Regions from separate parts of the Homo sapiens genome. Here all the other regions are linked to region 4. Evidence: fine-mapped expression QTL. A gene starts in region 4. Each other region holds a variant in brackets. All regions are shown on one strand. Distances are between the middles of the regions. Region 1 overlaps B4GALT1 (beta-1,4-galactosyltransferase 1). Region 2 overlaps B4GALT1 (beta-1,4-galactosyltransferase 1). Region 3 has its middle 4.5 kb from the start of MIR12117. Region 4 holds the start of B4GALT1 (beta-1,4-galactosyltransferase 1).

Region 1 (5,000 bases), 43 kb before region 4:
AAAGCCTCCTGCACACATGCTGTTATCCTAACCAGAATCTTCACAACACCAACATGAGGAAACGAACTAAGGCCCAATACTTTGGAATCCTCATTCAATGCTCTTTCCCATCTCTCTTGGGATCAACATAGTCAGAGCCCTCTACTTTGGGGAAAAAGTGTGTCATAGGGGCTTGCGACTGGTACACAATCTCAAAAGTGGGATGCTCAAAGTCTTCTCTCCATGCCCTCAAAAGATGACCTGGGCTGGGCATGGTGGCTCACACTTGTAATCCTAACACTTGGGAGGCCAAGGTGGGCAGATCACTTGAGTCTAGGAGCTCGAGACCAGCCTGAGCAACATGGTGAGACTCTGCCTCTACAAAAAATTACAAAAATTTGCCAGGCATGGTGGTCCCTAGTACTCTGGAGGCTGAGGTAGGAGGCTCAACTGATCCCAGGGAGGTTGAGGTTGCAGTGAGCCATGACGGCACCACTGCACTCCAGCCTGGGCGGCAGAGTGAGACCCCCATCTCAAAAAAATAAATAAATAAATAAATAAAACCAAGACCTGGAAACTGGCACTCCAAAAGGCTGCCTGTGTGCGTACAGAATGCACAGATGTGCCACAGCCACCCAGACTCAGGTGGGGAACTTGGGGAAGCAAACCACTTAGAGAAAGAGAGGCACCAGAAAGAGAATCAAGGAAACATTTTACACACAAGAGCTCCTTTTTTAAAGCCTCTGACAAAGTTTTCTAACCCCGCGTGGTGAGTGAAGGAGCCCAAAGGCACACTGTGTTTTTTGGCTGTCCCACAGGCTGAGTTGATTTGGAATTCTGCGTTCAGCTAATTCTGTGTAAGTCATGGGTTCAAAGAAATTCAAAGTTTAGGCTGGGCGTGGTGGCTCACACCTGTAATCCCAGCATTAGGGAGGCTGAGGCGGGCAGATCACTTGAGGTCAGGAGTTCGAGACCAGCCTGGCCAACATGGTGAAACCCCATCTCTACTAAAAACACAAAAAATTGCCGGGCACAGTGGCTCACGTATGTAATCCTAGCACTTTGGAAGGCCAAGGCGGTGGATCACCTCAGGTCAGGAGTTTGAGACCAGCCTGGCCAACATGGCGAAAGCCCGTCTCTACTAAAAATACAAAAATTAGCTGGGTGTGGTGGCGGGCGCCTGGATTCCTAGCTACTCAGGAGGCTGAGGCAGGAGAATCACTTGAAGCCGGGAGGTGGAGGTTGCAGTGAGCCAAGATTGCGCCACTGCACTCCAGCCTGGGCAACAGAGCGAGACACTGTCTCAAAAAAAAAAAAAAAAAAAAAAAAGTTCAAAGTTTAGAAATTGCATATGAAAATTATGAAGTTGTTGGAATTATTATAATATACTGTGAATATTCACTGGTGGGGATACCATACACAAGGCATGGATAAGTGTTTCAAATGGCATTTCATTTAATCATCTTGACAATCTTGTAACAACCCTCACCCCAGCCCAGACTTACACTGTCAAACACAATTCAGCCCCGTTGAGCACTTTCCAACAAGCAAAGGGAGGTATACCAACAGAGCCTTTCTACATCTATGCACTAGACCCCCAGGGCTGCCCAGCCCAGGACAATGCTCCCTTCTCTTGGTACACTCCCCAACAACTGCAGCAGAGGGCTCTTTGAGGCCATGTCTCTACCATAGGACTGGGCCTACTGGCCTTGGCTGTTTGATCTAAGCAGAGGCCTAACTGAGACTGAACTAAGCATTTTTCCTCTCCCAGGAATTGGAATTTTGGAACCACGAATGAGCACCTCTGCAGCCAAGGCCCATGAGCAATGGCACCCTGGAGGAGAAGCCCAAGAAGCAGACCTGGTTCCAGCCCCTTTCACCGCCCGGGGTGCCACGGCCCTTTCAACGTGGTGAGATGCCCCAGTGTCCGGCCCAGACTTAAAATTGGTCAGGCAGTTTTCCAAAATAACCTGAACTATATATCCCTCCCTTTCTCCCTCATCCCAGCCTGGCCTCATCTGTGGGATGCAGTGAGACGGAAGGGCATGGTGCACTTTAGCAGGTGCTATCA[T/C]CTATCAGGGGCCGTGGGTACACCAGGCCAGCAGAACAGTGGAGGAGGAAAGTGTCCTCCCCGGAATGACAGAAAAGTCAAGCATTTTCTAGGCTGCTTTGGGTGAAATGCTGTAACACTGGGGCACACACCTTCTTTGATAAGAAAGACAGGCCCTGGCAAGCTCACCAAGCCCCACCACTCACAAGAGGCGGGAAGACGCCCAGCTTCACTCCTGCCCTCCTCACTGAGCACACTCATCGGTACCTCTGCCCCTCCATTTGCTCAAGTAAACATTGATCAAGCACCAAATACACCACAGTGACAGACACATGCATTTTTAATCCCAGGAATGCTGGCTTCTTTATTTATTAGCTATGTGACTTGGGGTACATCACACCTCCAGGCCTCAGTTCCCTCTTTTGTGTTATGGGGAGAGCATGTGCATTGTATTAAATGAGACAACATTGTCTACCAACATAAGATTAGGTCCACCCTTTAAAAGCTGGGTTTTTCAGAATTAAGAAGACCCAGCCCGGGGAGGCTGAGGTTGCAGTGAGCCATGACAGCACCACCGCACTCCAACCTGGGTGACAGAGACCCCATCTCAAAAATGGGGCCCCACTGCCTGACAACAAATGTTGGCTACTATCATTACAGGAAGAGGCTTTCCCATCCATCTTGAACAGTCAGACCATTCCAAATGTCTCTTAGATATCCTACCTGGAGACTCTGCCTTCTGTAGTGTTTGCTTCAAAATTCCTCCCAAATCCTGCTTCTCTGATGAATGGGAAATTACTAAAAACATTTAAGGCTCAAGGGAATTAGCCTGTGGCTTACATGATTAGAGTTTCTCACAGCAGAAGAGAGTCAGGGGGACCTCTGGAGGCCTGTGAAATGCGTAGGAAGTCACGCTTGGTGAAGAGAAGCCAGCATGCTGGGTGCAGGTGTCCCTTTCAAAGACGCAGCTTTTAAAGGGTGGGCCTAATCTTATGTTGGTAGACAAGAGTTACAGTTATCCCTTCCTTCTAGGTCAACTGGCTGCTTTTAGAAGGAGAAGACAGGCCCCCAAAAGAAAGGCCAGAAAACATATAAAATCCCCAAATGATTGAGCAGAGACTGCCACAAGATGGGGACTGGAGACAGCAGACAGAATCGACCAGACATAGACTCTGGAGGCGGTGCTGGGAGAGAAGGCATCTGTAGGAGCAGAGAAAAGCATGCATGGTGAGAGCATTTGTAAAGGCGGTAAGGAAAAGAGAACAGCCAAGGAACTACAAGAAATTCCGAATGAGTGAAGCCAGAATGAAACATGAAGGCAGCGATGAGCCAAATCACCGAGGCTGGGGAGAAGGGTTAGGTGCTTGTTAAGATACTTAAGCTTTATCTTTATTTAGGCCACAGGGAGCCTTAAACCATGGTTTATATGTCAAGGAGGGATTTGTGCCCCAATCCAACTGAAGGCAAGGAGACCAGTTAGGAAGCTGTTGTATGATTCCTATGAGGCAACAACCGTGGGTAAGCAGACAGTGCCTCCCCCAAGGGCCAAAGGCAGGGGCTCCACTTCCACTTCCATGCCCCACCTGCTCCCTGTGTATGTGCACTACACTTGCAAGCAGCCTTTGTAGGGGCGGGGCGAGAGGTTCAGGACAGGTGCTAGAATCTGGTCTAATCCCCAAGAAAATCCTAACTGTGGTTAAGGAAGGCAAGTGTGGCCTTCCCCTGATTGCAACAGGGGACAGATGACCAACTACAGAAAGCCAAGGGCCACTCTTGTCCAAGTTCCAACAGCTTCTGGAAGAACTGTTCTGTCCAATCACCCTGCCTTCCCTGGATGTCAGGTCCATGTGTGTATATCAGCAGACACATCCCTTATCCATAATGGCTTAGGGACCAACTGTGCCCAGCCTCTCCTGCACCAAAAGACACAGCAGCAACATGGCTGGAACCATTAACCCAAAGCCAAGACTCGCAATGAGTCAGAACTTCTACGTGATAAGAGAGACACTGTTGCTCCTATACACATGCCCTGGCTCATCACAGAGCCACACCCCTCCCCACCATGCAAGAACGCAGCACTAAGCTCTCAACAGGACAGATCCGGGGGCAGGTCTGCAGCCAGTGGCAATGTTTGCTGAAACACCCTCTGTATGCTTTTCTGTGCCCACTGAGACAGTAAGAGGAAGGAACTAGGCCGAGTGGGTTGCATGAAACAGTAACAGATCAGCGGCAGCAGAAGCTCTGACGGGGCATTCCTATAGGCCTAAGTGTGGATCCTGGAACAGTGGACAGGCTGGGAGATGATCCCCAGAGAATTACTGGAAACAGCCTGGGATTATACAAATGCTGAGTTTGTGGAGGGCTAATAATATCTACTCAGCCATGAGTTCACAGCAGTTGGGCTCTAGTTTTGCTTTTGTTGTTGTTGTTTTTTTGCAGGGGAGACAGGGTCTCGCCATGTTGCCCAGGCTGGCCTTGAGCTCCTGGACTCCAGCAATCTTCTCACCTCAGCCTCTTGAGAAGCTGGGACTGTTAGCACATGCCACCACACCCAGCTGGGCTCTAGTTGTTAAACATTGTTAACTATTGTTAACCATAGTTAACCATTGTTAACATTGTTAACTATTGTTAACCATAGCAATATGGTAGCTCAGAGCTCTCAACAAAACTTGGATCTGAGATTTAAACTCTTCACCCCAGTGAGTGAGAGAGATGGGCCTTCAAGGGTTAGGGACCAGGCTATGGGAGTGGTTCTTGGTCAACCAAAGACACCACTCTCAAGAGTGAGCATACCCTTGACCCCTGCCACACAGGAACACAGACTGGACTGAGGCTATAAAGTTGCTTTCAGAGAGAACTGAGCTCCTTGAAGAGCCCAACAGGGATTCTGGGTGAAGTGAGCACAGAAGAGACAGTTTTTGTTTGTTTGTTTTTTTGTTTTGTTTGTTTGTTTTTTTAAAATGGAGTCTCA
Region 2 (5,000 bases), 54 kb before region 4:
GAACACCAAGATCAGACACAGCCCCCTACACAATGGTAAATACACACATTTGCATACACAGGAAATCAAAATACACAGCACAACAGGTCTCTGGGACATGAAAGCCGTCATCCTGGCTATGCAGAGCCCCCGCCCCTGGCAGTCAGCAGAGACCCTGTCCAGGCTGAAGGCCAGCACAGCATCTCCTTTACTGTCCTGTGCCACCTCTGCCCTCTCTGATCTTTCCCAAAGGCCAGTTCACACAGAGTCACCAGCAATAGGATACACAGAAACAGAAAAGGGCACGGCACATGACAACTTCGCGGTCATAACTCCCAGGAAAAGGAAATGCTCCCTGAACCCCCAGCCCTGAAATCCCCAGTAAGGAAACAGGACCCGCGGCATCTCACGGACCAGGCAAACATCCAGGCCTAACTGTGCCCTGGCTGTGCCTTGGGCCCAGGTGAGCCCATGAGAGCACTACGTCAGCAAATGGGGGGAGCAGTATTTCCCTTGGTTCTAAGAATGAACCACATACTTGACATGAATGAGAAGGTAACCAAAAAAAAAAAAAAAAAAAAAAAAAAAACAACAAGAAAAGGTAGAGTTTGGTTTTAAGAGTAAAATAACACAGAAGTTACCACTCAGGGCATTTGTCTGATTTCTTTTAAGGCACTTTGGAAAAGTCAGGATCTGCGGACAGAAAGAGAGGCTTTCATTCTTCTTATTTCCCACAACTCCCTCTCAATGCAGTCATTTCTAGTTTTAATAATATCCTTGGTATAGAGTGGGGAACTGACAGAGAAATACTTTTTGCATAGTCCAGCTGCTTCTGCAATGGAAAATAATTTTTAACCAATACAAAGGCTTCTGGAAAAAGAACCAAGTTAGCATCTGAGATGCGCAAAGCAGTAAAGGCACAGATAAGACTGGGGCCAGGCACCAGCTCAGCCTCCACACTGAGGGCTGGTACCCAGGAGGGCAGTGGTTTGGGGTCCGCCACGAGCACAAGGCTCAACCCTGGGATTAGGCAGCTGAGTCTTGGAACCTGAGCCCAGGCTGGACCTGGCAAAGGCGCTCAGTGGTAGGAGTGCCTTGTGTCATCTCATCCCAGGTGGCTCAATAGCTCCCAACAGAGGTGGGTTTGTGACAGACAGCCCTGTGGGTGGGAGCCTCAACTGGGGTGGGAGCACCTGTGAAAACCTGAGGTGGAACAGGAGGCTTTAGGCACCGAAGTTCTTGGGAGGGAGTTGGGGTGTGGGTTCGGCTGAACTTCTTTCTAGATCACTAATTAAAAGGCACATTCATGCTGGGGAATGGATAGTCTGTTTGACCCTGAGTGCCACAGTCAAGTTTTAGGGGACAGGCAAGAGGCAAAGGAACAAAAAGGGAGACGAAGGAAGGAATGAGAAAGGCAGGGGAAAAGAGGAAGGAGGAAGAACTGGTAACAAAGGGTGGGCCACGGAGTGTGGCTAGCAGAGCCTCTGAGGGAGGTGGCCCCCACCAGAACAGAGGCTCCCTCTGCCTGGGGAGGTGCAAAGGGCTGGTAAACAACCTGACTGCTGTTATTTACAACCCCCCAGCCTAGGGGCCTGAGGGGTCAGTCTAAGGAGGCTGAGGCTCCCTCCGCCCTGCCCACCTGGGGAGGGTTGGGGAAGTGGAGAGTTCTGCACAGTAGGTGCAGAGGCTTCTGTCTCCCAGGTATCCTCCCCGAGGTCTGGCAGGATAATGCTGACCGGGAGGCCTTACCTGCCAAGGGGCCAGAGGGTGATTTTGCTCTTGAGAAAACCTGGCCTGCCAGCTAAATCATAGGCCTATTTGTGGCCACTACAGCATATATTTATTTTTCTCCCTAAAAAATGCTCAATACCCCTCCCCATATTTAAAACACCACAATAAAAATACATAGGAAATTCAAGTTTACATAGCATGCCAAGAAAAATAAATTGTCATGACTTAACATTAAACAGCTATGCAAATTTGGATCAACACAAAATCAAGCTAGATCATAATTAGAACTCGATCTGTTCTTTCTTTAAAATACTACAAACTACTATTTAAAAAAAAACACAACAACTTTACATTCAGAAATCAGACAATCTGGAGATAGGCCACTGAATGCGAGAAACCCAAGGCTTTTGCTCTGATGCTAGAGTTGCCCTGGAATCCACACACATAGGACAAAAGGTCCAGGGCTCAAGTTTTAAAATCCTTTTGCTAAGAAAAGACATATGCACAGTGATTGCAGTGGTTGCATACCACTGAAAGAAGGGGGTGGGGGGAGGACGTAACATTAAGAATGGTTGAAATTTTGTGTTTTTCTGTTAAATTACAACTACCAAAAAGATCACACCAATCCAATTTTAGCAGCACTCTCCGAATTTTCACGAATAAGAAAACCATAATTTAAAGAAAAATTCTAACCTATTTCACGACAATTTAGCAATTCTATCACCGGGAATGTGTTCCACGGCCACCAAATTTTGGGATGTGTACAGTTCTGACTCTGGGGTGACACTGCGAACACATCAAGAAACCCGCAAAGGCATAAACACCTTGCAGAGCTAAGAATTCACATGCCGAGCCAAGTTGGGGGCAAAATATCCCACTCGTCCTGGTCATCTGGAAAGCCAT[C/T]TGAATGATGAGCGAAGGGGACCTGTCACTCAGACTGGTAAAAATGAGAGGGACCAGCCCAGCAGATTGGCAGAGACACACAGCAGAGGTCCCTGGCTAATTTCAGGTCTCTTATCCGTGTACCAAAACGCTAGCTCGGTGTCCCGATGTCCACTGTGATTTGGGTATACAATGGGTATCTCTGTACATCCAGCACCTGGTAGGTGAGTGAGTTCAAACCATCAGAGAGCATTGTCTCCTTTGTGTGTGCAATTCGGTCAAACCTACAAGGAAAAGAGCACAAGGAGATTGTCTTAAAACAAAAATCTTAAGAAGAAATCATCACACGTACTTCCTCCTCCCTCTCCACTGTAACCTGACCACCTCAATTTCCCTCTAGGCCCAGAGCCTCGGACCTGCAGCCTACCTCATCCTAAAGGGGGAAGGAGTATGAATAAACAAAGAATGCACCTCTGAGGATTGGGTTCATTTTTCTTGTCTCTTGAGTGGCGGATCATGCGACACCTCCCGACCACAGCATTTGGGCGAGATATAGACATGCCTCTAAAAACTAATCTGCAAAGAGTAAAGGGAAAGTCATTATCACAGAGCTGCCATACACTTGGCCTGAGAGCCCCGGCTGCAAGACTGTTGCTCCATCCACCATCACCCTTGCTGTTCTCACTCAGCCCACAACCCAGCATCATGCCAGAACCCAGCCCAGCATGACCCTGGTTAAAACTCACATTCCGACTCCATGTCCTTTTACAACTGGTTCTGCGGTTTGTGGTGTTGACTACCATGTGCCAGACACTGGGGCCGTGTGCCCCACAGAATATACAGTGTGAATGCTTCAAACATAGGGCCTTTAGGGCCAGGATGGAGGTGAGAAGAGGAAGATGAGGTTGGAGACACAGAGGAAGAAGCATAGAGTTTGTAACCTCTGCTGGAGCAAGCCTAGGCAGAGCCCAGTTGAGGATGAACAGGTATCTGCCATAGCATTTTGGGCAGCCAGGATGGCACAGGCAAAGGCATGGAAGTGAGAGCAAGCCTAGTGCCCTCAGGGAGCAACGTAAGCTCCTGGGGACTGGTGACAAGGGTCTGGGGTAGGACGTGGCAGGTGATGGGCTGAAAAGGGCCAGGCTAAGTCACAGAGGCCTTCTCAGAGCATCCCACAAACGGTTGCCAGTATCTGAAAGGGGCCTAATATACAGTATTTCCAAAATGCTTTTAGCCATGGGGAAGTCTCTGGAAAGTAGTATACGAATGGAGGGCTTCAGAACATGTGGGAAAAGGCAGAAAAAAACAAATGGAGGGCTGAGAACAAGACTAGAGGCAGCCAGAACAGGGTGGAGGATTCTGTGTTGGTCCAAGGAAAAGGAATGAGGACCAAAATGAAAGCCTGGAGAGCAGGACAGCAAAGTTAGTTAAGAGGCAGAACTGGCTGATCCCAGACCACTTAAACATTCCTGGCCTTGCCTGGCACACAGTAAGTGGTGCATAGAAAGTGTTAGGTCCTTTATCTTTCAAGAAAGTTGCTCCACACACCACCCATCCTTCTAGTGCCACTGCGTTAGCATGGGACTAGATGCCTGCGGATGCTCCCTCCCTCCCCAGCTGTTCTGACCATTCAGACCTGTGGTATCCTGTCGGCCCTGCACACTGTCATATCAGTCCAGAGTGTCTGCCCAGGAGTGCCTCTGTGGAAGCAGGCTTGCTTCTGTCTGGACCCTATGTCCAGGTTTTCAGTGTCCTGGGCCTGCCTGGCACAGTGCTCTGTATGCAGCAGATGTTCAATGTGCACACACTTGATACCCCATCTACATACTAAAACTGGAGTTTCCTTCAAGGCTTATATTGAAGACGTGGGTCTCTGTTAAGTTTGCACACAATGGTAACTTGAATGACTTGGGTGTTGCTCTGACAGACACCTTCTGTTAACTGGTACTGCAATTTAGAAAGGCTGCACCAGGGTGTATTCTGATATTAAACTCAGTAATGAGCTCAGACTGGCTCCTGGAGGGAGAAGGTGCTCATCGGTGGCTGGTGGGGTTGAAGCCTCTACAGCCAGAGGACTGAGCAGAATGTTCTTTCAAATGCTACTGATAGATGTTTTTTACCACTGTAAATGACAACCCACATCATAATGATTTACCAGCTTAAAAAGAGCCCCAGGATGTGGATGGGACAGAACTGACCAGGCCATAATGGTTGCTGGGGCTGGATAGGTCCTCAAAGGTTTATTATACTACAGTATCTCTTTTGTATATGTGAAAATACTCCAAAATAAAAATATAACACAAAGCTTCTGTGAAGACAGTTAGGATTCTGCTCAAGGAAACTTGTTTCACAGTGAAAGGGGACCATAATGAAAGGAGGGATTTTTACAAAGGACATTGGTTTACTCC
Region 3 (5,224 bases), 63 kb before region 4:
GAAGAGTGCCCATGGATCCTGGGAGCCAGCAGGGCCAAGATCTGCCAGCCAAATTCACAGAGGCCACCAAGCCCAGCGCCCTTGAGACACACACAGCATCTGAGTCAGACACAGAGCATTCCAAGCTGGTAGGAATGGCCCAAGCTGACATATGAGATGTCATGCCCAACAGACAAATTGTTCATGGGGAAGATTTCTCCTGTCCTCAGCATGCAATTCTTCTCTCCCCATTCCATAGTCTCATTGTCACTAGGTCAGTGTCTATCCAGAGCAAACCACATGGAACACAAATCATTGAGGCTTGGAGTTGATGAAGTTAAACCCAACAGCCTGCTTTTTAGCAGTCTTGATTCAGCTTGTCATCAAAACAAACCACAGCCCCTGGCTTTGCTTAGGAAAATGCCTTTGGCTGAGAACTTACAGGGGGGTCTTGGAATAGTGTGGCAATTGCTCTCCCTTGGGAAGAGGGTGTACAGTCGGGGAGGAAAGGTGCCCAGAAGAGAAAGGGAGAACTAAGCAGGCATCTAGGCCTTATTGGGGAATCCTAGGTCTCCACCTGGACTTCTGGGTCCCCGCAGTCTTCAGACAGACACTGTGCTGAGCCCTCCTGAGCACCAGGTGTTGGCCCAGGCAGGGCAGGTCCAGGAGGATTAAGAAGCTGTGTTGTCCATGAAGCAGGAACTGGTTGTTGCTGCCCAGAGTGATGCCTCAGAGGCAGAAAACCCCATGTCTTCAGGTCCACTTGCATCCCCAGCCCTCAGGAGTCTCCCTTCTTCCCTCTTCCCCACGCCTCAGGCCTCCTTGCATCCTCATGGATTGTTTCAGTGTTAACCATTCCTGTACATCTCCCAGACCGTGGTGACACCAATGCAATGCCCCTGGTATACGGAACTGTCGCTGTCAAGTTTACTAGGTTCCTAAGTCCTCTAAAACAGTAAAGGGAAAACAAAACAAAACACAAACAATCTCATCCCAAAGGTGCTCTTGGCTCCAGCCCTGGATCCAGGCTGTACTTCTCTCGGCAGTGCTGCTGAGGCCACAGCTTCCCTGGCTGGGGCAAGGAACCTCACAGCCTCCATCGCCCTGCTCCCACACTGTGTGGATGAGGAGCTGGGTCATGGTCCAGTGGCCAGAGCCCTAGCCTGGGACTCAGGAGGTCTGTGTCAGACCCAAACTCTGTGTGACCTTGTGCAAGTCATGTGAGCTCCCTGAGCCTAAGTTTCCCATGCTGGAATTATTGTAAGGAGCAACACACGGTACGTGGGAAAGCGCCGAGTGTGCTCATGGAGGGTGAACACGGGTGAGGGGTTCACGAGTCCACCTGCACCCTCCCTGCCCCACAGGCCCGCCTTGGAGGAAGGTGGGAACTAAGAGCTGGGCCATGGAGCTGGCCTTTCTCCTGTGCTTCTGTCATCAGGGGAGACCAAAGTCACTGTGGCCACCGCAACAGGACACAGGGAGCACTCCAAAGGCCCCGGCGACGTTTGATTGTCCAGCATTCCACATCTGTCCCAGAAATGAGTTTCCAACAGCTCCAGGCTCAGGTCTGTGTCAAAATCCAGATGTCAGGGCCTCCCTCTGCAACAGGGCTCCTAGATTCTGGAGTCAAAGATCTACTAGAAAAGGGGTCCCCCTTGTCGAGCTCTGATCAGGCACAAGAGGCGAATCTCGCCCCTCCAGAGCCAAGACAGTGTTCCTCTCCTACCGCATTCTTTCCATTCTTTAGTGTCTTGAGGCTTGACAGTTCAATTGCCCTCACAAAAGAGTGGCAAGAAATGTTGTAACTATTTTTCTAAACCTGAGAGAATTGCCAGAAGCCCCCCCAGCCTGTGTTGAGCTCCCATTCTGCCTTCTCAGACCTTCCTACAGCCATGCCATTTCCCACCACCTGTGAACAGAGTTCAGGCCTCCACCATTCCCCCAGGGGAGGAACCCTGCATCACCCTTCCAAGACTGGGGGACTTATGGGGAATGCAACTCCTCCCAGAAGACAACCCAGCATGTCCTCTCAACAGGGCCAACATTCTGAACAAAGGCCTCAGCCCAGGGTGGGGCGGGGACGCTTAGAACAGGGGCCTGGCCCCAGGCTATGTAGAGAAGGAAAATCATCTTCAATTTTTTGCTCATGCATCTGCTCCCAGAAACAATTACAGAGTAATTTCTGCACTAAATTATTCATACATTTCCCTGCCTCATATGGAAAGACCATTCTGTAGTTTCCTTTGTTTCCTTAGGCCTCTTTCCAATCGATAAATATAGATCCACTTCATCATTCTCAATGGTTGCATAGTACTTGATTGTTTGGATGTACTTCATTTTACTTAGCACAGTCCCCCGTTGACGGTGGCTTCTCATTTTCCAGGGCTACAAACAGCACTAGGGCGAACACTGACGCACATACATCTTGGGGTGTGACTTTGTTTTCTTAGGATGAATTCCTAGAAGTTGACTTGTGAGGTCAAAAGATAGGTCCACTTTTAGGATTTATTTCTCTATAGTCCACTCCCAGAATGGGTGTGGTAGTACCCTCGCCAGTACCAAGTCCTGTCTCTCCCAAGTGTCCTGCCCACTCTCCAATCCAGGGTCTAACATGGAGTTCAGGCTCTGCTTCCTGACACCAGGGGACCCTCCTCTCCTTCAAGACATAACCTATCTAGCTGACTCCATTTTCACCCCCAGGGATAATCCAGCCCCCAGCTTGTCATTTCTTCCTCTAAAAAGCCTCCAGCTCAGCCCCTAGTTTCCACCAACAGTCAGTGGGAACCAAGTGGGCACCCTGGGAGTAAGAGGCTCCTTGCTCCCAGTCCTGAGATCTTGACTGAGTCCAGGCTTCAACTTCTCCACCTAAGCCCCACCTGGCAAAAGGACGGTTGTACCTATGTCATAGCTTTGCCACAGCCCAGACTCCTTAGGGGAGGACAGCATTTGTCTCGAGAACAGGTAGCCGCTGAAAAGCCAGTCACTGGGGTCAAGGTCCCCAGCTGGATTCAGCAACCAGGCTGAGTCCTTATGACTGGCCAATCCTCCTCAGGTGGCACAGCCCACACAGCCAGCACGTCTCACGCTCAAATCTCCAGGAAGATGCTGGGACTAACCACCATG[C/T]GCTGCCACCTCCAGAGCAGAACAGACCAGGCGAAGCCTTCACCACAGGAGTCTTCTTATTTTTTCATACTGTGGTAAAATACACATAACAGAAAATGCATCATTTTACCTTTTTTTTTTTTTTTGAGACAGTCTCACTCTGTTGCCCAGGCTGGAGTGCAGTGACGTGCTAAGTAAATGAACTGCAACTTCCACCTCTTGGGTTCAAACAATTCTCCTGCCTCAGCCTCCTGAGTGCCTGGGATTACAGGCATGTGCCACCACGCCCAGCTAATTTTTGTATTTTTAGTAGAGACGGGGTTTCACTGTGTTGGCCAGGCTGGTCTCAAACTCCTGACCTCAAGTGATCCGCCCACCTTGGCCTCCCAAAGTGCTGGGATTACTGGCGTGAGCCACTCACTGCGCCCGGCCTCCACATTTTAACCTTATTTATTTATTTATTTTGAGATGGAGTTTCACTCTTGTTGCCCAGGCTGGAATGCAATGGCCCAATCTCGGCTCACCACAACCTCCGCCTTCCAGGTTCAAGAGATTCTCCTGCCTCAGCCTCCCTAGTAGCTGGGATTACAGGCATGCACCACCACGCCTGGCTAATTTTGTATTTTTAGTAGAGACAGGGTTTCTCCATGTTGGTCAGGCTGGTCTCGAGAACTCCCAACCTCAGGTGATCCTCCCGCCTCAGCCTCCCAAAGTGCTAGGATTACAGACATGAGCCACCAAGCCGGCCCATTTTAACCATTTTTAAATGGGAACAGGTAGCAACTGAAAAGTCAGTCATCGGGGGCAGAGTGCCAATGTAAAGTTCTGTGGCATAAAGTACATTCATATTGTTGCACCACCACCATCCATTTCCAGAACTTTTTCATCTTCCCCAACTAAAACTCTGTACTCATTAAACAATAACTCCCCATTCCCCTTCCCTTCCCCATGCCCCTGACAACCACCATTCTGCCTTCTGTCTCTGTGAGTTTGACTATTTTAGCTGACTCGTCTAAGTGCAATCATATGATATTTGTCCTTTTGTGACTGACTTATTTCGGTTAGCATAATATCTTCAAGGTTCATCTGAGTTGTAGTATATGTCAGAATTTCCTCCCCTTTTAAGGCTGACCGATATTCCATTGTATGTATATACCGCCTTTTGTTTATCCATCAATGGACTCGTGGGTTTTTTTTTTTTTTTTTTTTTTGGCTACTGTGAATAATAGTGCTAGGAACTAGTATCTGCTCAGGCTCCTGTTTTTATTTCTTTTGGGTATATAGCTAAAAATGGACTTGTTGCATTCTATGGTAATTCCATGTTTAATTTTTGGAGGAATTTCCATACCATTTTCCATAGGGGTTCCACCATTTTACATTCCTACCAGCAATGCACAAGTATTCCAATTTCTTCTTTTCTTTTACCCTGAATCAACAATGACTAACATCAGATCCAATTTCTGCATATCTTTGCCAACACTTATTTTGTGTTTCTGGTTTTTAAAATAATAACCATCCAAATTGGTGTATCTCTTTGTGATTTTTATCTGCATTTCCACTTAAGGGAGCCTTCTTAAGGTCAGGAAATCCTAGATCCCTTTGTCAAAGGACAGATGGCCCAGCTGAAAGAAGCCTGGGTAGGGAGTTTGCTCCCACGCTCCTCTTAACCCTATTTCTTACTCCTGGGAGCTGAGCAGAGGTACAGCCACCCTGTCCGCATCCCTGTGCTTCTCCCTCAGGCCCCTGGGTACTCTTGACCCTGCTGAGCTTGGTAGGGGATGATCAGGAAGCCTGAGTTTTGGAAGTTAAGGAAGAGCAGGTGAGAGGAAGGATGGAGACAAAGAAGCACTTCTGAGGGACAGCAATGGAGCGTGGATGGCATTGGGCACAAGAGGGAGATGTCTCCAACGCCATGCCAGCCCTCCCTCACCAGGTAGAACTTTAATAGCTTACCCCGTGATGCTCCAGGAAGCCCTGGGAGGGAGGCAGGGAGGGAGGAGAGCAGGAAGGGGTGATCCTGCTGCTTTTACAAATGATGACCCAGAAATAAATGGACTTCCCTCAAGAAGACAGAGAAGGTTAGTCGCAGGGCAAGAGGAAAAGTCAACAGCAGGGCACTTCCTACAGAAGACACAGAGACACA
Region 4 (5,230 bases):
ATATTATTATTATACGGTGTATTGAGTGCCCGTATTTTTTTTTTTTTTTTTTTTTTTAGACAGTCTTGCTTCGTCGCCCAGGCTGGAGTGTACTGGCACAATCTTGACTCACTGCAACCTCTGCCTCCCAGGTTCAAGCAATTCTCCTGCCTCGGCCTCCTGAGTAGCTGCGATGCCACCACCCCTGGCTAACTTTTTTGTATTTTTGTAGAGATGGGATGGTGTTTCACCATATTGGCCAGGCTGGTCTCAAACTCCTAACCTCAAGTGATCCACTCCCCTCAGCCTCCCAAAGTGCTAGGATTACAGGCGTGAGCCACCATGCCCAGCCTGAGTGCCTGTATTTAATGTACACGATCTCATTTAGTCTTAAAAAAACCCCTGTAAGGTAATCATCGACAACCACATTTTACACAAGGAAGAGATTTTGAGAAACTCGATAGCATGTCTCAAGTCAGACACTTAGCAGCAAGGCAGAGTCCATTTCATTTTATGGGACTAGTCTGCTTCCCAGAATAATCATCAAATGCAAAGGAATTTAATTATCTGCTTAAAAAAACAAGCCCCCATTATTACCACAGTTCACGTCTGACCAATTCCAAGATGTTCTTCCCAAACTTGATATGAACACATTGACGCAATTACTGGCGAAATTGAGCAAGAGTATGTAGTAGCCAGGGCTCTGTGGGAAAGTGACAGAAAACTCCTATTGGCAGGATGTCATCCTGCCTGCCAGGGCCCCTCACTTACAACAATTATCTAAAACCTAGCATTAGAAATGAGAAACCACCTGTGTGGTAACCCTGGAAGCAACCTGTGGTTGCCTTGGGCCTGTGGGCCTGTAGGTTACAGGTCAAAGAGAAGTCCAGACTAGGCTCAGCCAGCTGCTATGAGGAATGCAAACTCACCTACTCAAGCTCTCTGCCTATGCTGAAACAGGCTAGAGGTCAGAGTTCAGATCATCTGGGCAAGATAATTGAGACTCAGGCTGCTACCGGAAGTACCAGAAATGGGCAACGTGGTGTTGACTGGTTATATTTTAGCCCTCTAACACCCAGAGTACACAAGCTCTCTGCCCCTGGGAGAGATCCCTGCTCACCTAGGTTTTGGGTACCCATACCAGGAGGAGGCTAGGGGGAAGGGCTCTCGGTCACGATCCACACAGAGGAAGAAATGAACACACAGTGACAATTTACTGAGGGCTTACCCTCATTAATTAAGCCCTTATTTACCATTGTTCACAATATCTTCCAAAACAACCCCTTGAAAGGGTGACCATTTATTATCCCAGAAGAGAAATATGAGGTTCAGAGAGAAGTCACTTGGCCCAAACGATCAGGAGAAAAACCCACTCAGGAGAGTGGCTCTATGGCAAGACACGTGAACCGAGAGGTCAGTCTCCTTCCCCACCGGGAGCCTCACGTCAGTCCCCAAAAGGGAGTGGATTACTCGAGGTCCCTACCAGAGTTCTCAGTGCAAGGCTGCTCGAAGCCCTAAGCAGACCCAAACTCCAAAACTTCCTGAGCCTCGGGCCACAGCAGGGAAGTCTCCAAGGCCTTCTCTGGTTCTGGGGCTAGAGGGGCCTCGGGACTTCCCTGTGCGGTCCCGGCCCCACGCCTCCAACAGGACTCCCCAGGGACCCACCTCGCAAACCTTCTCTCCCATCCAGTCCCAAGCCTCTGTCTGGGATTTAAAACTCTGATCCAGAAGAGGGAGGCTGGCTGTCGTAGAAGAGCCAGCCTGAGGGAATGTCTGGGGGACCCTGTCGGGGAAATCCGGGGGGGTCCCAATCCTCCGACTGGCGCCGACCCGAGTCCTTACCAAGCAGCGGGGACTCCTCAGGGCAGGCGGGCAGCGACAGTGCGGTGGTGTGGGGCACTGGGACCGAGGTCAAGTTGCTAGCGGGGCCAGGGCCAGAATCCACGACTGGGCTGGAGTCGCCACCCGGGCGCGGCTGGGAGGAGGCGCCTAGAGGAGGCGGCGGCCGGGCCCCTCCGGTCCGGAGCTCCCCGGAGGACTGCCCGATGGCGGCGGCACTGTTCGAGCCGCCCTGCAGCGGTGTGGAGACTCCGACCAGTTGGGGCAGGCGGCTCAGGTCGCGGCCAGCCAGGTAGTAAACGAGGGTGACGCCAAGGTGCAGAGCGCAGACGGCCACGAGCAGGCGGCAGGCCCGCTGTAGGGACGCGCCTGGCATCGCGGCGCTGCCGCTCAGGAGCGGCTCCCGAAGCCTCATCTTCCCGCCGCCGCTTTAAGAAGGGTGTGGGCTACAGGAGGGGAGGCGACCCGCCCGCGGGCCGCCCGCCAGGCGCTGCCCCACAGCGGCGACTAGGGGAGGGCCCGGAGCGGGGGCGGGCGAGCGGCTGAGAGCTGAGACTCCTCCAGCCAGCCAGACCTGGGAGCGGCGAGAAGCCGCCCGAGGCGCCGGCGGAGAGGGGAGGGGCGGGGCCCCGGCGAAGGCGGGGGCGGGGCCGGGCGCGGGGTTTTCTGGACGAGGGCGGGAAGGCGGGGCAGCCCGTGGCGGGATGGGCGCGCTGGGCGGGGCCTCGGGAGGGTGGGCAGCGGGCGGGGCGCCGTCGTGGGGTCCCCGGAGTATGACTGCAGCTCCGACGCTTGGCCGCGCACCGCCCTCTTCCTCCCGAGCCTTTGCGGCGGAGCTTCGGTCGCGTTGAGCCGCGCCTCCTCTTCCTCCTCCACGCTGCCCTCGACAGGCCGCGCCACTTCCTGGGGTGCGAAGGGACTCGGGTGCGAGCCTGGGCCTGCAGCGCGGCGGCGGAGAGAACGGAGAGGACAGCTGGCGGGTGGTTATCTGGAGTGGTTTGGGGCCGCGGCGGCGTTCTGGCCAGTGGGCCTTGGTGGGCTAGGAAGAGAGGCAGAAAAAGGTTACCCAGGAAACGGGCTTCGACGCCGGGCGAGGAGTGGCACGTTCGAAACCCCCTCCCTAACTCAGCCCGGCTGGACCCCGCTGCTTAACGGGGGGTCCTGCGGCAAAGAAAGTGGACGGGTTGCCACTTCTGTGCCTCCCCATCAGGTAGCCTGGGCTATAAGGGGCTCTCAGACCAGCTTGGTTCCAGATGTGTGTGTGGCGGGAGTCCTGTATACTTTGAAGAGGAGAGCAGCAAGAAGCCTCTAACTCCCAGGCCAGCGTGCAGGAGATCAGCCGGCGTTACAGTCTACACTGGGCTACCCACTGTCCCATGAAGTAGCAGTTCTCCCCATGTCGTAGAGTGGGGCCCCGGCAGATTAAGAAACTTTCCTAAGAGCCCACAGCTGGCAAGAGGCAGAATTCTGGCTCCGAAACCCATGTTTTCTACAGGTTTACCCTTTGTTGATTTGCAAGTAAGGGCTGAAGGCTGTGTGGGTGAGAGACTTAGGCACTGAAGCCACTTGACCTCGATTTGACCCAGAGGCCTCAGGCCCTGAGTGAGCAGAGACACCTCACCCCAGAGAAAGACTCATGGAGGTGCTGTCAGTAATGTGGATAGGGAAGTTGAGGGCTCTGGCAGCCAACCATCAGGGAATAACAGTAGCTACCTTATTTTGAGAGTTTGCTGTGTGCCAGTACTATCTGCCATGAAGTAGGTGGTGTTACGGTGTCCATTTCACAGATGAGAAAATAAGGCTTATGAGTTGACACTTTGGTTGTGATCATACAGAATCAACTTTCCTCACTTGACTTCCTGGACACCAGGTCCTTCTGATCTTCCTCACTTCACTGGCCATTTCTGTCTCCTCTCTGGACTTCTTCCCCAGTTGCTGAAGGCCCCAGCCATAGTCCATGATGTTCTTTTGTGTCTACACTTACTGCCTCGGAATGATTTATAATATCCAAATGCTGATCACTGATTTGTCTCCAGCCCAGATCTCTTCCCTGACCTCCAGATTCAACTGCTTATTTTACTGGCATCTCAAACACAATACATCTTGCCCTCAGCAACCTACTCCTTACACACCACTCCCGTTCTTACCTCCCTCAGAGAGTGATACTATTGTTTATTCAGTTCCCCAGAATCTAAAAGGTGTCCTTGATGTGCTTCTCTTGCTCTCAATGCCATTTGCAAGCCCTCAGCCAGCTTTGTCAGTGCTACCTTCAAAACATCAAAATTCACCACCAGCCAACTCTGATGTAACCATCCTCGATCAAGCCACCATCATCTTGCCCTGGGTTATATGGCAGCTACTAATTGGTCACCCTGCTTCCACCTCCTCCATTCCTCCTCCCTAGTCTGTTTTCCACAGAGCATCCAGGAAATCTTTGTAAGCATAAATCAGATCATGCCATTTTGTTCAGAACCAAATCCACAGAAACCCTGTTCAATCTGGTTCCTATTTCCCTCCCCACCCACATCTGTCACTCTACCATGCTGGACCTGCCTTAGCCACACTAGCCTGATAGCTATTCCTTGAACTTGCCATATTTCTTCCTGCCTCAGGGCCTTTGTACTTGCTGTTCATTTAGCCTGAAACACTTGTCCCCAATATTTCATTCAATTCAGGTCTCTTAAATGTCACCTTATGACAGAGACCTTTTCAGACTACCTTATGCAGAATGGCCTCCTGCCCAAATCTGCTTAAACTGCTTGAATTTTTTTTTTTTTTTTTTTGAGACAAAGTCTTGCTTTTGTCCCCCAGGTTGGAGTGCAATGGTGCAATCTCACCTCACTGCAACCTCTGCCTCCCGGGTTCAAGCGATTCTCCTGCCTCAGCCTCTTGAGTAGCTGGGATTACAGGTGCCTGCCATCACGCCGGGCTAATTTTTTGTGTTTTTAGTAGAGACGGATTTCACCATGTTGGCCAGGCTGGTTTCAAACTCCTGACCTCAGGTGATCCGCCCGCCTCGGCCTCCCAAAGTGCTGGGATTACAGGCGTGAGCCACCGCGCCCGGCCTTAACCTGCTTGATTTTTTTCAGAGTGGATATCAACTACCCAACATTATGCATTTATTTTCTGTTGTCTTGCCTCCCTCATTAGAAAATCAGCTTCATGAGAACAGGAAATTTCTCTCTTGTTCACTACTGTATCTTCAGCCCCTAGATTTTTTTTTTTTTTTTTTTGAGACGGAGTCTCACTCTGTCACCCAGGCTGGAGTGCAGTGGCGTGATCTTGGCTCACTGCAAGCTCTGCCTCCTGGGTTCACGCCATTCTCCTGCCTCAGCCTCCCAAGTAGCTGGGACTACAGGTGCCTGCCACCATGCCCGGCTAATTTGTTTGTATTTTTAGTAGAGATGGGGTT

What was found.
Region 1: its variant is fine-mapped to the expression of B4GALT1 in whole blood (INTERVAL, PIP 0.99).
Region 2: its variant is fine-mapped to the expression of B4GALT1 in whole blood (TOPMed, PIP above 0.99). The same link has a PIP of 0.9 or more in blood mononuclear cells, lung and monocytes.
Region 3: its variant is fine-mapped to the expression of B4GALT1 in whole blood (TOPMed, PIP 0.99).

Annotation. Positions count from the first base shown.
Region 1 is chr9:33,121,994-33,126,993 of GRCh38, forward strand. The region is part of intron 2 of B4GALT1 (beta-1,4-galactosyltransferase 1); the gene reads right to left. Among named protein-coding and RNA genes, the nearest start is that of MIR12117, 16 kb to the left of the region's middle. RefSeq lists an enhancer at 2,828-2,877. The variant T/C (reference allele first, on the strand shown) is at 2,051.
Region 2 is chr9:33,110,711-33,115,710 of GRCh38, forward strand. It overlaps B4GALT1 (beta-1,4-galactosyltransferase 1), which reads right to left. Exons shown (of 6, transcript NM_001497.4): 5 at 3,064-3,168; 6 at 1-2,876. The coding sequence ends at 2,744. Among named protein-coding and RNA genes, the nearest start is that of MIR12117, 4.5 kb to the left of the region's middle. RefSeq lists an enhancer at 881-1,480. The variant C/T (reference allele first, on the strand shown) is at 2,614.
Region 3 is chr9:33,101,611-33,106,834 of GRCh38, forward strand. It overlaps a transcript of B4GALT1 not described here. Among named protein-coding and RNA genes, the nearest start is that of MIR12117, 4.5 kb to the right of the region's middle. The variant C/T (reference allele first, on the strand shown) is at 3,103.
Region 4 is chr9:33,164,937-33,170,166 of GRCh38, forward strand. It overlaps B4GALT1 (beta-1,4-galactosyltransferase 1), which reads right to left and starts at 2,400. Exons shown (of 6, transcript NM_001497.4): 1 at 1,822-2,400. The coding sequence starts at 2,233. B4GALT1-AS1 (B4GALT1 antisense RNA 1) reads left to right here and starts at 2,012. Exons shown (of 3, transcript NR_108110.1): 1 at 2,012-2,110. RefSeq lists silencers at 2,152-2,425, 2,184-2,583 and enhancers at 2,251-2,816, 2,734-2,833, 2,817-3,381, 2,904-2,983.